3 separate regions of the Homo sapiens genome follow, and all the other regions are linked to region 2. The links come from fine-mapping of genetic effects on gene expression. A gene starts in region 2. Each other region holds a variant in brackets. All regions are shown on one strand. Distances are between the middles of the regions. Region 1 overlaps MS4A6A (membrane spanning 4-domains A6A). Region 2 holds the start of MS4A4A (membrane spanning 4-domains A4A). Region 3 overlaps MS4A6E (membrane spanning 4-domains A6E).

Region 1 (2,769 bases), 100 kb before region 2:
GCAGTATGGGGTGGCTGTGGGCAGAGGTCTAGGTGCAGGCCCAAGGATGGTGTAATGTGTGGGAGGCAGCGGGAAGTACAAGAAAAAGGTCTGAACTGGAGGTCAGAATATTGAAGTCACAGTACTAGACTTGCCTTGGTTTATTCCCTTGGGTAATCAGTTCCTTGATTTTATTTCCCACTCTGGTTCTCATTTATACATTTATGAAGTGAAGGGAATAGATAAACTAACCTCAGAAGTGACTTCTTTTGTACTCCAACTCACACAGAAAAGAGAATTGAGCTAAGAGTACTCTGAGAGCTATAGTTACAGGTAGGTAGGCTCCAGGGCACACCTCACAGCCATACAGTAGAATGTTACTTAATCCCACATGGGCACTTCTTCTTTTAGGAACTCACCAGTTGATACTCTGGGACCCCAATTTCCCAACATAATGACTGAAGTGTACACTCCTGGGCCTCCTAGTAGCCAGTAGTATTCTTGATGCCTAGAGTCTATATTTCTTAGAATAAGCTAGATTTGTCTTGAGATGGCACTCTTCTTCAATCTCAAAAAGGGCTGGTGCAATGTGTGACAAGAGTAGAACTCGCTAAAGCCTCGATGTCTCTGGTAAGTCTGAGCCCACCCCGAGACCACATCCTGCATCCTTGAGCTTCCTGCATGTTCACTGTGGGATTGTTCTCTGGAGTAACAGGCCCATATATTTCCTCCTAAAAGTTTGAAAGCACTACCCTTGTGCCAGGCTACTCAGTATGGTTGCCAATAGCCACATAGACTATCTATATTTAAAGTAAAATTAAGAGAAATTTTTATTCAGTTGCACTATATTTCACATCATCGATAGCCACATGTGACTGCCATATTGTACAGTACAGCTGTAGTGCATTTCCATCATCATAGAAAGTTACATTTCATTTCTATCATCATAGAAAGTTACATTTCATTTCCATCCTCAAAGAAAGTTAAATTAAACAGCACAGATCTAGTTAGTAGTTCCGAGTCTAACTGAGGGTTCCAAATAATAATCTCTAAATACCGATGAGAAAAAGAATTGGCATTTTTCTGGATGCCGTTTCTCACTTCCTTGCTGGCTTTGGGAGATTTTTGTAGCCAGAGCTTCCAAATTGAGTCTCGGTGCAATTGCATGGTATGACATTCTCTCACATAATCTCCAACATCAACCCCTTGAGAGA[T/G]AATGGATTGAGCGAAGACTTAATGAAACTTTAAAGACAAGAGAAGATTCTCCCTATAATCCAGGCTTTGTCTCCCTGCCACTTCCAACTCTAGTTTTTGCTGGAATAAGGGATAAAGACGGGTAAAGCTTTGTTTTTTGTTGTTGTTGTTTTGTTTTTTTGTTAGCCAATACAAATGACTAAGGACAACTTTTTAGGGTGCAAGAATTTATACTCAAACAAAATAAAAGTATTATACTTCTGGTGAGATAGATGAAAGGATACAGTCAGCCAGCACTACCCAAAACTATTGAAGTCCTCAAGGAAAAGGAAAATCTGAGAAAGTCTAAAGGAACCTGAGGAGACATCAGGCCTAAATGTAATGTAGTATACTGTAGTAGCCTCTGTGTCTACTTTGGATACCTCACATGAACAACACTTTGACTCATTTTTTTTTCAAGGGTTGTAACACCTGGGCTTAAAGAATGGACCCCAACCAATAGACCGCTTTATAACACTGTCAGCTTCCTTGCCACTGAAAACCTGAATTTGAAGGCCAGTTATCACCGAAAGAACCTCATAAACAGGCACAATTTCTCTGTGATACATTCTTCGGCATGGGCAGAGGGAATATTATAATCCCCTGAATGCAGACTTTGATGTAGGGTACAATAATTGGAGAAATGTTCTCTGAACAAGGATACAGAGGATCCAGGCCCAGCTCCTAATTCTAACAACAACCAACTGCTCTGGAACTGAGTTTTCAACTTTTCAAAGTAGAAAGACTAGCCTTAAAGAGTTCTGTCTAAGTTTTATTTTGATCCATTGGGTTGTGGGTTATAGCTCTCTTACTCACCAAAAGCTTGGTTAACCTTTTCTCTGTGGCGATTGATAGAGAGCCAGAGATGATAAACTAAGATAAAAGAGAAAATGGTCAGGTCAGATTCCATGTACAGAGTACCTTCGACGTCACTATCACAATGTTTATAGACAACTCTCATGGGAAAATCCCTGAGAAACCAGTGATCAATGAGGTAAGTTCCATTTAAATACATAGATTTGTCCCTTTGTCCATATAACATTCAGATAACATCAGAAAAAAAAAAGATAGCAGAAATATATCCTAATAAACAAAAAATATCCCACTAAACAAAAAAAGACCTTAAAAGCCAGGAAATAATTTTTGTTTTTTTAATAAAATGAGACAGTTTTGGTGTAAGATGTTCTCTAGGGAAGGACATAAAAGCAATGGTTAAAAAAAAAAGTAGTAATTTTACAGAGGAGAAATCTGGAAAATACTACCCCAACCACATAATCAAGGTTAATTGTGTCAGTGACATTATGTTGGTAGCATGACCCTTGATACGACTTGATGAAAATGGTGCTTTACCTCATCATCACCACCCAAAAATTCATCACCATACTCTAAACATCAAAAAAAAAAATCAGACAAACCCAAATTTAGGAACATTCTATAAAAATCTCAGCCAGCGCTACCCAAAACTATCAAAGTTCTCAAGGAAAAGGAAAATCTTAGACAGCCTAGAGGACCCTGAGGAGACATCATGACAAAATGTAATGTAGTGTAATGTAGTAG
Region 2 (2,769 bases):
AGCCTAATTCTCTGATTTTATTATTATTTATTCCTGTTGTCTGAAACCAGGACAATATTTCTGAAATATAATCTATTTTAATTTTGAGAATCGTAATTTCAGATTATAGACCACATAGTTTTTGGAATTAAGTAAAACTGGATTTCAATCTCATCTATACCAGCTATACGAATATCTCTGAGTTTCAGTTTCTTCTTCTGAAAAATAGAAATAATAATATTACCTTCCTTCATTCCCTTTCCATTTGTGTGTCTTTTGCTCATTCATCAGGTCTCCAATTAGATGTCCCCTTATCTAGGAAGTCTCCTCTGCCTACCCAATGTTGGGTTCATTGATCCTCCTATGAGCTCTCTTAGGATATCCTACTTTACCTTGCAGATCACTGATTACAATGGGTTGTAATGATGTATTTACTCATCTGTATTGCCACTTTACCTTGCAGATAACTGATAGTAATGGATTGTAGTGATTTATTTACTGGTCTGTTTTTCCAAGTAGTCTATAAACTCTTTGAGTGAAAATTATTTTTTACCATTTTTTCAGAAGCACACGGCACACTGCTTGGCTTATAGTAGTTTTTCTAAAGAAAATGCTGAATGAATGAAAACTGCACACCACTTTGCTTTCCTCCTCCATGTAAAGTAGGCATTATTTTATTTTACAAATGAATCTTAGGTTCAGGAGATTAACAGGGCCATGCAAGAAATGTTTGCCATTGGTTTGATCTTAGTCAAAGACCAGCTCGTTCTATGATACCAGCTGCTTCCTTCACTTAGAAAGGTGTTGTTTTATTGCCATACAACCAACTTGTTGCCATTTTATGGCCACTCCTGATGAATCTCTAAAGGTGGAATTTCATGTAAATAAAACATTTAAGTTGTGTATATTAAGGTTGGTGCAAAAGTTAATTGTGATTTTGGCCATAAAATAATGGCAAAAACTGCAATTACTTTTGCACCAACCTAATAAAATAGTAATAGTAGTGCTCCAGGAAGACAAGAGTACTGTGGAAATGTGTGACCCTGTGAAAGGGGGTATTTACAAAATACCATTTACTTGTTTATATAACGACTTTTGAAGAGAGTCTGGCATACAGTAAATCCTCTACCACTGATATCCACAGTAATTAGCAGTATTATTTTCATAGGAAAGACTGTATCAGGCAGCCCCTGCTTTTTCAGCAAATTTCAAAATAGACATCCACACCCATATTGGGAACACAAAATCAGTTAATGCTTCCGATATAAAAGAGGAACTAGCTGTGCGTCTCAGAAATTCTCAGCACAGCCTTTAAGGTTCCAAACATCTGCTAGAAGAGGAATGCAGATTTAAACTGAGTGAGGTGTGGAGTGGGGGAAGTTGATTGGGTCTAGACCAAAGAACTTTGAGGAACTTGCCCAGAGCCCTGCATGCATCAGACCTACAGCAGACATTGCAGGCCTGAAGAAAGGTAGGTCCAGGGACTTGCCTTCCTAGGCTTTCGGGCTGATGGCTTGTTTCACTTCCTGGGTTAAGAATTTCTGGGAGGGGAATGAGAAGAATAATGAGGCCACTTCCCATGACCCAAGCTGGTATTCAGGGTTGGGGTGGGTTGAGTGCACCTTTAAATGTGCATTCGGTGGGGGGATGAGGAACAGTTTTTGCTACAGTCGATAGGAGTTAGAAAAGCCTCCTAAAGGCTGACATTGGAGGCTGGATAAGGTTGTTTAGTTACTTTTGTCCCCTGAGTCTTCAGGATATCAAAACACTGAAAGCAACATTTTAAACCTTTGACTAGTTACCTCATCTACTGTTAATGCCCTTCTTCTGTGGTCTTTATTCTCTGTGTCTGACTGGTTATTTTTATAACTCAGGATTTAAGAACAGATGTATCACATGCAGAATTTGGTGTACATGGAGTAGGGCACAGGCAGGGTCCCCAGCCTTGTACATTTAGATGGGCTGTGGCCTGACCTAGTTCTCCAGTGGTCTTTGGCACTATTCATGGGGCACCCAGGCAGTAAACTGAGGCTGCTCATGATAAAATCTGCTAATGAAAAACACCTTGTAGACTTTTAGCATTCTTAGGATAAGAAAGAAGCTTGTAAGTGGTCGTGGCCATTGTAATCTTTCCCCAGATGAAGTAAAAGAAGCCAATAAAAGGGAAATAATGTACCCAGAATCACACAAGTTAACAAAAGGGCTGGGAGAAAAACAAAAACAAAAACAAAAACAGAATTCTTGGTTCCTAGCCCGGGCCTTTCCCCCTTTTCCCTTCCCATGCCACCACTTCTGCATCCCCATCATCCTTCTAAAACCATCCAGATTCAGGCCTCATTTTGGGTTTCTAGTCTATTTGACAACTTTGCCAAGAAAAACGGATGGCTGTTTGTACCACTCTCCTCATGCTCTCTCCTTGCAATTGTGACCCATGAGGAGGATGGTGACATAAAAATGAGGAAATAAGAGACTGGTGGTGCTGCTGATCCACAAGGTGACTGGGGCCAATAGAAGAGGGAAGGGTGGTCTGGGTTTCCCCACCTCTTTATCAGGGGTGTGGGGGAAAGACATTGTATTTCTTAAGAGCCTGATGCATATAGGTGATGTGGCAAAACCAAGGTTTAAATTCTTCTCCAACCTGGAAGAAATGTCCCTCATATGCATCCAATATTCTCAGCAGTTAAAAAAAAAATTGAATATAGAGAAGTCAAGCCCTGGATGGTAAACACGTTTTTGTTCTTGGGGACTTCATGTGCCGTAGATAATTAACACAAGGATTTCTGTGGTGGA
Region 3 (2,769 bases), 58 kb after region 2:
TTCCTGAGGGAGACAGATAAGGGAATAACTTGCAATGTAATGGCAAAAAGGGATAAGAGAGATTCGTGGCCCTTTGGGAATGATTCTTACCCAGCATGTCTCTTTCAGGTGCATAGCAGCCTGGCTGGAAGCATTCTGAGTGCTCTGTCTGCCCTGGTGGGTTTCATTCTCCTGTCTGTCAACCCGGCTGCATTAAATCCTGCCTCATTGCAGTGTAAGTTGGACGAAAAGGATATACCAACCAGACTTCTTCTTTCTTATGATTATCATTCACCTTACACCATGGACTGCCATAGAGCCAAAGCCAGTCTGGCTGTAAGTATTTTTTAGATGGGATGTTCTAATTTTATGAGGTTTCTGAAAGCCTTGATTTCTTATTATTCCATCCTTTGAAAATCTCTCTGTTAATTCTGGTTTGGGCATCTGGAGGAAGGCCAAGGTTATGTAAATCAAAGGGGGGCTGCATGGATGAGATTAAGGGGATTACATACTAACAGAGTGGAATTGAAATGTCAGATAAGGTTGATGATGAAAAACTAAAACTTACGGTTTGTAGAGTTTCTTAATTACTCAACTAATCTAATTTTGGAGGCATAAATTATGAGTTTGTCAAACTGAGAATGTTGGTACATAGAGTGGTGAATTCAGATTGGCAAACAGAGCAGAAAGACCCGGGTGATCAGAAAATGCTGACAAGGAAATGTGGTATGTGTGTGTGGTAGGGGGTCAGTTTGGTCTAAAAAGACATCAGACTAAAGATGAAGAAACAGAGAATAGGAAATATGGGGTTAGATGGTAAGGGTTTCTCCTAATGATTACAATAATGAATAATACTAATCAGGTGAAACGGTAACATTATTATTGCTTTTTGTTATAGCTGAAAGAAGTGTGATATCTTAAATCAGGAGATAAGAAATATAGGGAGATGGAGAGTGTAACTGAGAATTATCGCAGGAGAATTCTCTCTCTTTGGAAGAAGAAAAACAATGAAGTTTGGCTAACAGAAATAATGTGTCTGAAGTTGAAAAATTAAGGGGTATGTGCATGGCCAGCAACGCATTGAGAGGAAAACAGGCAACATAAAAGTAAAGAAGTTGCAGAATATTTATTGTCCTGCAATCATAAAAATGAGGTCAGCCAAGAACTCACCTGGACGATGGACAGATAGAAAGGTCTGGTCAAATTCATGCTTGTACAGCACCCATTATAAACTGAGCCTTGCTTCCAAGGTAATGGTATAATGAGGAAAAAGTGCATGCAAATGAGGCTGACAGTAATTGGTACAAATTCCACCTTGGGAAAAATTCTGGAGAGAAATTTGGGAGAAATTTGGTAGTGATAAAGTATAAATTCATGATGGGACGATTTTATATTGGAAATAAGAGAGATTCTGTTGAGCTTGCTTGCTGGAACAATTTCTAGGTAATGGACACAACATGTATCTTCTATTTAACTGTGTGTAAATACCACAAAACAAAAGTTCATGTGATCAAATTA[C/T]CTCCCTTTATTATCAGATGACCAGTTCTGCACAAAGAATGTCTCAGGACAGAAATGGTAGAACTCATCCTTGTGAGTTGGTGTTGGTGATTAGCAACAGTTTACTACCTTCACTGTTTTTTTCCAAGTCTTAAAACACCAAAAACAGCAAAAATAAAAAATAAACAACAAAAATAAAAAACATCCAAACAGGTTCAGATACATAGACAGGGATGTCAATACTGAATTTTACAAAGGGCTTACACAGCCAAAACCTCCTTGATCCTCACAAATCTCTGAGAAATAAATGTTAGTATGCATGTTTGATACATGAGGAAACAGGAGCTAGAGAAAGAAAGAGACTTGTCCAGGCTTACACAGCTACTCAGCAGTAAAGATGAGACTATAATGGAGCTGCTGATTCTCAGTCCTGGGAGCTATTACGCCACTCTGCTCTCTTACTGAGTGAACAATGTCATCAGAACTACGTACGTCTCAAAGAAGTGAGAAACAAGTGTATGAAATGGATTAGTTGATTTAGTTACTACTCATCTTCCCTTCTCTTCTCAAGAAACTGAATGAGTGAAGGAGTTGAATTAAGACAATTGTGAGGAGGAGCAGTTTTGTTTTCCTGATTGTTTCCTTACTTCATTCTCTAATGGTTGAGGTGGTCTTCATCTCTATGGTCACCTCTAAACTAGGCATGAAAGCTTCGGCTGACCCAAGCATCACTGATATTTTATTTCTTGACTTTCAGGGAACTCTGTCTCTGATGCTGGTTTCTACTGTGTTGGAGTTCTGCCTAGCTGTGCTCACTGCTGTGCTGCAGTGGAAACAGACTGTCTGACTTCCCTGGGTGAGTGTGCTGGCCAGCCTCGCTTAATCTTGCCTAGTGTATCTTATCTCTGCACTGTGTTGAGTATGTCACCAAGAGTGGTAGAAGGAACAATCAGTCAGTCATGAGATACACATGGGAGGTCATTTAAATGGTGATGGAAGACCGAGAAGAAAAGCAGATGGTAATTGAGTAGCTGACAAGCTGAGAGTTCACTGGATATGAAAATAGTTAAAATGAGAAATCAACTGGTTCAATCTTCCCATTTTGTCATTGAAGGGAATGAGACTCTGGGAAGTTAAATGACTGGGCTGGCATTATGATATGAGTCTGTACCTGTGCTGAGGACGCTAGAACCTGGCTTGCCTCCCTTCTAAGCAGAAACAATTTCTGCCACAACCACTAGTCTCTTTAATAGTATTGACTTGGTAAAGGGCCTTTACACATGTGACTGGATC

What was found. PIP is the estimated chance that this variant, and not a neighbour inherited with it, causes the effect. A credible set is the group of variants that fine-mapping cannot tell apart.
Region 1: its variant is the best candidate, but not a certain one, in a credible set for the expression of MS4A4A in whole blood (INTERVAL, PIP 0.73).
Region 3: its variant is the best candidate, but not a certain one, in a credible set for the expression of MS4A4A in whole blood (TOPMed, PIP 0.50).

What each region holds. Positions count from the first base shown.
Region 1 is chr11:60,176,232-60,179,000 of GRCh38, forward strand. It overlaps MS4A6A (membrane spanning 4-domains A6A), which reads right to left. Exons shown (of 6, transcript NM_022349.4): 4 at 2,029-2,085. Among named protein-coding and RNA genes, the nearest start is that of MS4A6A, 5.5 kb to the right of the region's middle. The variant T/G (reference allele first, on the strand shown) is at 1,194.
Region 2 is chr11:60,279,267-60,282,035 of GRCh38, forward strand. It overlaps MS4A4A (membrane spanning 4-domains A4A), which reads left to right and starts at 1,400. Exons shown (of 7, transcript NM_148975.3): 1 at 1,400-1,450. The coding sequence starts at 1,410. RefSeq lists a silencer at 1,285-1,334.
Region 3 is chr11:60,337,633-60,340,401 of GRCh38, forward strand. It overlaps MS4A6E (membrane spanning 4-domains A6E), which reads left to right. Exons shown (of 5, transcript NM_139249.4): 3 at 109-315; 4 at 2,234-2,332. The coding sequence ends at 2,323. Among named protein-coding and RNA genes, the nearest start is that of MS4A6E, 12 kb to the left of the region's middle. The variant C/T (reference allele first, on the strand shown) is at 1,498.